Homo sapiens: one gene and its partner. The protein of the gene in region 1 interacts with the protein of each later gene in a biochemical or structural test. Each region holds a gene or a part of one and is shown on either strand. Other genes may lie near its edges.

Region 1 (3,748 bases):
ACAGGTGTGCACCACCATACCCAGCTCATTAAAAAAAAAAAAAAAAAAAGGTAGAGTTGAGGTCTCACTATGTTGCCCAGGTTGGTCTGGAACTTCTGGCCTCAAGGGATCCTCCCACTTCAGCCTCCCAAAATGCTAGAATTACAAGCATGAGCCACCACACCTGGCCCATTCCTTCACTTCGTGCAACATAATTGCCATCAGAAACCAGACTTTTTTTTTTTTTTTACTACAGAGACTTAAACTTTTACAAAAGGAAGATGTTTTTCTCATTTAAATTGTCATTCTAGGGACAGAAAGTAAGTTTTGAAAAGAAGTAGCTTTTATGGAAGAGAGGTGCCTGAGAATTTCAAAAGGATTTAAGACAAGGGGAATGAGAAGAGATTGAATGAAAGAAGAGAAAACAGAGAGAAAGAGTAATTAAAAAAAAGAAAAGAAAAGAAAACAAAGATAATCCCAAAGAGCAGTGTGCACAGTTTTGCTGCAATCAGTACCATTCTGGTCAAGTCTCCGTCATCTGCTCTAGGCTTAGTTCCTCTCTGCCCTAGGCTGCTTCTGGTAAAACCGCACGCTCAGCTTGTTGGGCGTCTTCATGGAGCCTGTTATTTGCTGTGGGTCTAAGAAAGGGAAAGCTTCAGGCTTCAGGCATCTGTACCTCCTATCTGTTCTCAGCTCCATGGAAATTCTTAAGGGATGGGGCTATAGATAAGAGAGTGGGAAATGGAGATCAAGGTCTCAAATGAAAGGCAGGGTGGTTTGATTTTTAAGCTCCCCTGATACTTTTTATTTATATATTTGCTGCTTCTAGAAAAACCAAAAAAGGAAAGTGATTCATACATAGAATGCCTGTACAAATAGCAAACCAATAACTACCCCCAGCAGATTCTGGCCCTTGCCAGGGTGCGGTTTCAGAGCTGTAAAAGGCAAGGGATATGTACATTGAAATGACCCAGTCCCAGAATATTTTAGATTCAGAAAAGGTCAGAGACTTTCGTAACTAGCAATGACCTCCAGATTAGGGACCATGAATGTGCAGAGTGAGGACAAGGAAGGGGCCTAAAGCTGGGTCTACTGTAGAATAAACAGAATCATTTAAGGTTAATTATGTTCTGATGTGGCCTCCTTAAATTCTTTCAGGCTGGGGACAATTTCTAGCCCTTTAAGATCAAATCAGTGGCTTTGGACTAGAATCTGCTTAATAAGAATGAACTCCAAAGGTGAAAAAAAAACATAAAATCTAAAAATCAAAGGATATGCCTTTATAAATGTGAAAGTTTAGTTTGGCTCAATGTTGGTCAGTTTAGAAATGTGGGAGTAATCGGAGAGATGGCATAACTGGGGGCGGGAGGCGGGGCGGTGATTATACCCCTACCACTACCTAATCCTCAGGGGCTACCAGTTACTTGCTGTACACACTTTTAAAGTACTTTCTAATTGTGGACCATGAGTGGCAGAGTACTGCGGGCGGAGGCTTTTTGCTGAAAGCAACATTGACTTTTATTTCTAGGGAAAGTCTTGTCTGTAGATGAGCACCGTGGGGCAACGGAGAAAATGCTGACTTTCTTGTTTAAAAAAAAAAAAAATTTCCGTAAGCGGCCCTCCAATGGTCCGTCCACTCAGCAGGCCAGCTGTCCCAGGCCTCTGCCAGGGAGGGAAGACGAGTGCTTCAGTGCATGGCTTCGGTGAGCCCTTTAAATCCAGCTTCCCCTGCCCCCACCAAGAGGCTCCCTTTCCCTGACAGGTGTTTTCCCAACTCCGGAGGCCCAGGATTTTGGGGAGTGGCTGAGCCAATAAGATTTCCCTTTGGAAGGGGGGGGGAAGGGCGTGGCTAGTTGGGTCAGAGCATGGGCGGGGTTTGCGCGGCTGAGCAGAGCCGGCCTGGTTGCGTGGAGGGTTGTTTTATTCCCACCGCCCCCCGCACCTTTTTTTTTTTTTTTTCTGGAGTCTTATTAATTTCTCTGTGGGCTGCAGCTGGAGACCGCGGAGCGCTGGAAATGACGCTCGGAGCTTTAATTACCGCAGCCGCCGGACAAGTGTGAGGAAAGCTGAGAGGAAAAAGAAGGACGGGATCCGGGGAGAAGCGAGAAGCTCCCCCCGCCCCGCTCCCCTCCCGATTTGGACTGGAGGTGCAAGGAAACTGAAGAAGGAGCAGAACATAGCCCGGCTGCGGGGAGAGGCCGGAAACCTACCGCCTCTTTGCAATCAACTTTTTTTGGAAACCTTTCGCCCCCCTTCCTTTTTTATTGTTGACCAACCAGTGAGAGAGAGAGAAAGTGAGGAGGGAGCGAGCAAGCGAAGGCTCACGCGGGGAAATAGCTGCACAGTCCGGCCCAGAGCGCCAAGCGCACACACCGAGCACACTCCCACACGCGCACACACGCGCTCACACTCGCCCCCTCCTCGGGCCCCGGCCCTGGACCCGCGGGCGCGGACTCGGTCGCCCGCCCTGGGAGTCGCCACACCGCGCGCGCCGCGCCCGCCCCCCTCGCACCCCCACGCGCGCCCGGCTGGGGGATCTCCTCCGCGTGCCCGAAAGGGGGATATGCCATTTGGACATGTAATTGTCAGCACGGGATCTGAGACTTCCAAAAAATGAAGCCGGCGACAGGACTTTGGGTCTGGGTGAGCCTTCTCGTGGCGGCGGGGACCGTCCAGCCCAGCGATTCTCAGTCAGGTGGGTTCCTTCTGGCACTCCGGTCGCCGAACCTGCAGCCGCCGGCGGGGCTGCCTCGAGTGGCTCCCCTGCCCTCTTCACCCATCCCGGGAGGCGTGGAGGGACCGCTTGACCGGGGCCTCTTCCCTGGGCTTTCGGTCACCCCTCTTTCCATTTGAAACTTACCCTGTATGTGTGCGTTTGCTTTATTTATCGTGAAAAATCACTCTGAGTCCCTCTTTTCTCTCCTTAACCCCCTGCTTTTCTTTCCCGAGCGTTTTGTTTGGGAGCCTAAGCGGGATCCCTTCTGGTGGCGCCTGTTGTTCGGGACATGGGAGACCCAAATCCCCAGTCAGAGGAGACTCTTCTGTCCCTGTCGGGTCCCCGAGGGCAGAACCCGCACCGCCGGGGCCGCGGTCCTGGGGCGGTGCTGGCTGGGCCTCTCCCGAGCCGAGCCCGAAGGGCGGTGGAGAGCGGCGCTCAGAAAATCGGGCTTTGCACCTGTGTGTGCTGCTGGCGACCGCTGCGCCCCCAGTCGCCCGAGCCTTGTGGCGTCAGACGCAACTCGCGCCCAGCCCGGGCAGCCGGAGTGCAGCAGGCGGGCGCGCCTCGGTCCGGGGCCCGGAGTTCTGGGCCTCTTCCGCCGGCTTCCCGGAGCCCTCTCCCCATTGACTTGAGGGGCGCTTACTCGCCTGCCTGACCTCTTAAAAAAAAAAAAAAAGGCTTGGCACACTTGAGCCAGAAGCCCGGCCTTCCCGTCGGTTGCCGTGTTTGGCTCCGGGAAGAGTTCTTCCTGTAGTTCAACTTGCTATTGGCCGGAGTCCTTCAAACTTGTCTGTTTACTGCCCGGCCAGGCTGCCGAGCCTGCGGGTCACTGGATCCACCCGAGGCGAAAGCGGCAGCGGCGATGGGTGCGCGGCCACTGCTTGCTGGAGAGCTCGAGCCCCAGGTACCTGGGCAGGCAAAGGGCTAATTGACCCCGAGAGGCAGCGCGGCGGGGCTGGCCCGCCACGGCTTGCAGGACTAATGACAGCACCTGCAGTGCAATGGAGCTCAAAGTTTCTGACACTAGAGTTTCCTGGGGATGAAAGTGGG
Region 2 (3,748 bases), on another chromosome or scaffold:
AGAGGTTGCAGTGAGCCAAGATCGCACCACTGTACTCCAGCCTGGGTGACAGGGCAAGACTCCATCTCAAAAACAAACAAACAAACAAACATACACCATCGGGACCACCTATCAACACTGTACCTCAACTACAGCCTGGTGCAGTAGAATAAACTGTGGGATCCAAGCCTATTCCATCAGTGACTCACTAGGTTGACATCGGGCAAGATCTCTTTATGCCTCCCTTTCTTTAATGCAAAGATGCAGGTATTATAGCAATACCTCAGTCAATGTTAACTCCTCCCTTCTCTTTATGGACTCTTAAGGATTATTTATATGAAGACCACAAAATCATATAGGCCACCTCCCTTACAACACCACACTTTGGGTTTGGTAAGCTGTGGGTTTGATCCCGGTTTTCACTGAAAACTGCATGCGTGTATGCACGTATGTCCACACACCTCTCCATGAATGTGTTCATCCGCAGGAAGAAGCCCACGTGCCAGGCGTCTGTGGGGGAGGGGATAGTAAAGTGGTCTTTCGCTCTAAGAAAGGTTATCTATTATTTGAATTTTTCTCGTTGGGGATGATTTCTATCATTATAAAATATTTTTTTTAAAGGAAGAATCTTATTGTAAAAAATGTGTCCAAAACCCAACAGATATTCCTCCTATTTTAAGTAACTTGCTAACAACAAAACTCTAGCAAGACAATAAGAGAATCATACCAGTCCCAGGAACTTGTAATATCACAGAACGGATCCTCAATAAAGGGTCTTCATAAGGCTAATGGAATGACTCCCACCTGAAAGATTCTTTAAACATCTTCTTGGTTGAGCTTTCTTGCAATAATTTATCAATCCGACAGCAGGACCTCTGGTTCCCCTGCCCTGGGCCCATCAGCGCCCCCTGCCAAGGGTCCCCTACCTTGCCATCAGAAGCAGTGTTGATCCTGTAATGGTACACCCTCCCTTCGTATCTCAGCGAGATGGACCTCTGGCCAGGACTGCTCTCACTCTCACGCACCAAGAAGCTGCCATTGATCCCGCTGCTCAGCAGATACTCAGCGGCATTGCGGGACACAGGCCCATGGTACCAGGAGTGTTTCTCCAGACTGTTGACTGGCGTGATGTAGTTGCTTGGGACCCAGCCTTGGCCATTTTTGGTTTGGGCTTCACACCATTCCCCATTGTGATTATAGCCTAAGACCCGGAGCTTTTCACCTGAGAAGAAAGGAACCAAATCAGACATATCAGCTTTGGAAACCAGCTTCGTTCTTTTTCATTGATTCTTGTGTAACTACTAAAAATCTCCAAATTCCTAAATACCAATTTCATTTTAACAAGTCCACATAAAGATATGCATTTATAAGTGTATGAGAATTCACGTTTACATTTGAAGCTTCCTGTTTGTACTGAACAGATAGGTAAGTGTATAGCCTCAGTTTTTATAAATCAATTATGTTTATTCAAGTGCTCTGTTCCTAATATAAGACATTTTAGGGAAATAATGCTTTTTCTTAGGGGAAAAATTGCGTTCAGTATTTTGTCCAGCTGTCCTTTTCAGTATAAAAAATAGGGCAAGTTCTGTTTTTGCCCAGGGCTATTGTACAAGAACTCCTCTAAGGAGAGTCGACTCCCTTAGAAACATGCAGTTGTTGTTTTGGATATCCCTGCAGTCCAGATTTCAAAGCTGCTCCTTTAACGAGCAAAGGGTGGTAGGTCAAACCGCAATTCCCAGATTTCTATCTCCTGCAACCACCACTAGCTGCCCACAACCCTTTTACCTTTAGTTATGCTTAGAGTGTTATCTCCACTGGCCACAAAATCATACAGTGCAACGAAAAGGTTGGGGTCATTTTCACTGGGTCCAGCGAGAAGGTTTTCCTTGGAGTTCCAACGAGCGGCTTCACTCAGACCCTGAGGCTCAAAGTCAGATGCTACTGGCCGCTGAAGGGCTTCTGGAAGAGAAAGGGGGGAACAGAAAAAAGAAAAAGGAAGAGAAAATTGGGAGAAAAAATTAGTTTTATTCTCAGAAGCAAAAATATTTGTGTTTCCAACATTACACATTCCTATTTCATTTCTTAACATCTGTACATACTATTATCATTAAGGTGGTTTTTAAAAAACTCTTCCTTTACTAAATCTTGTGGAAATTAAGTATTTTCACTCCAAGGTGGTAATTATTGTTCCCCAATAGTTTGAGCTTCTAAAATTCATGGATTCAATATGACTTTAGTCAAATTAAAACAGTCTATCCACATATGCATTTGCCTTTGCTTAAAATATGCAATGAAAATTTCTTGCTTTAGCCGGGCATGGTGGCTCACGCCCGTAATCCCAGCACTTTGGGAGGCCAAGGTGGGTGGATCACCTGAGTTCAGGAGTTTGAGACCAACTTGACCAACATGGTGAAACCCTGTCTCCATTAGACATACAAAAATTAGCCGGGCATGGTGACGCACACCTGTAGTCCCAGCTACTCAGGAGGCTGAGGCAGGAGAATCGCTTGAACCCAGGAGGTGGAGGTCTCAGTGAGCAGAGATTGCGCCACTGCACTCCAGCCTGGGTAACGAGAAACTCCGTGTCAAAAAAAAAAGCCGGGGGTGGATCATGAGGTCAGGAGTTCAAGACCAACCTGACCAACACAGTGAAATCCTGTCTTTACTACAAATACAAAAATCAGCCGGGCATGGTGGCAGGTGCCTGTAGTCCCAGCTACTTGGGAGGCTGAGGCAGGAGAATTGCTTGAACCTGGGAGGCGGAGGTTGCAGTGAGCCAAGATCGTGCCACTGTACTCCAGCCTGGGTGACAGAGTGAGACTCCATCTCAAAAAAAAAAAAAAAAAAAAAAAGAAAAGTCAAATCGTACAGAAGGGCTTAAAATGAAAGACAAATACTTTCTATCCCAGTCCTCTCCGCTCCCAGAGGCAGAGCTGTTTTTTTGGTGATCACCCCCACCTCTCTAAGTACCAGCTAGATCACTGGAGTCCTATTCTCCGTAACAGACGCACACCTTCACTGCCTGTTCTTCCAACTAGGACAGCGTCTCTGAGGACTTACTTCACAAGACAAGGCTATTAACACACCCCACCCGTCCTTCCAGCTTTCTTGCCCCCACGACCACCCTCAAATATGTTCTTCTGTAAATTTTTTTTTTTAACCTTGTGGCAATTATTATTACAGAATAGAAAAAACTGTTACTAAACTTCCATGTTTTGTCTGAAACAGATTCTAAAAGTTGGAAATCAATCAACAGCTCTTAAATTAGAAAATGTGTGAATATTATTCATTACAGGGTCAAATAGGTTATTTGTTCCTGAAGTTTCTTCTTGCCTTTTTTTTTTGAACAGGGCTCAAACGCTCCAGAATTTCTTTGTGATAAAGACAACGTGTAGACGAGTTCTTGCAAACCAGCAAATCAAATAACCTCAAGTAGATCTTACAGTTGAAGAACATTGTGGAGTGAAATCCAAAATACTCATTTAAGGAACTACAATTTAAAAATCACTAACTGGGCCAGGCACAGTAGCTCATGCCTGTAACCCTAGAACATTGGGAGGCTGAGGCAGGCAGATTGCCTGAGCCTGAGCTCAGGAGTTCAAAACCAACCTGGGCAACACGGTGAAACCCCGTCACTACTAAAATAGAAAAAACTAGCCGGGCATGGTGGCGGGCGCCTGTAGTTCCAGCTACTAGTCCCAGCTACTCAGGAGGCTGAGGTAGGAGAATCGCTTGAGTCTGGGAGGCGGAGGTTGCAGTGAGCTGAGAT

The links. The genes of interacting proteins can lie anywhere in the genome.
Region 2: the proteins of ERBB4 (region 1) and ABL1 form a complex in vitro, tested with the Homo sapiens proteins (2 studies listed by BioGRID and IntAct, with this or other methods).

What each region holds. Positions count from the first base shown.
Region 1 is NC_000002.12:212,537,375-212,541,122, reverse strand, and holds the start of ERBB4 (receptor tyrosine-protein kinase erbB-4 isoform JM-a/CYT-1 precursor), read left to right. Parts: upstream 1-2,320; 5' UTR 2,321-2,592; coding exon 2,593-2,674; intron 2,675-3,748. UniProt on the Homo sapiens protein: Tyrosine-protein kinase that plays an essential role as cell surface receptor for neuregulins and EGF family members and regulates development of the heart, the central nervous system and the mammary gland, gene transcription, cell proliferation, differentiation, migration and apoptosis.
Region 2 is NC_000009.12:130,852,254-130,856,001, reverse strand, and holds part of ABL1 (tyrosine-protein kinase ABL1), read right to left. Parts: intron 1,939-3,748; coding exon 1,765-1,938; intron 1,202-1,764; coding exon 906-1,201; intron 1-905. UniProt on the Homo sapiens protein: Non-receptor tyrosine-protein kinase that plays a role in many key processes linked to cell growth and survival such as cytoskeleton remodeling in response to extracellular stimuli, cell motility and adhesion, receptor endocytosis, autophagy, DNA damage response and apoptosis.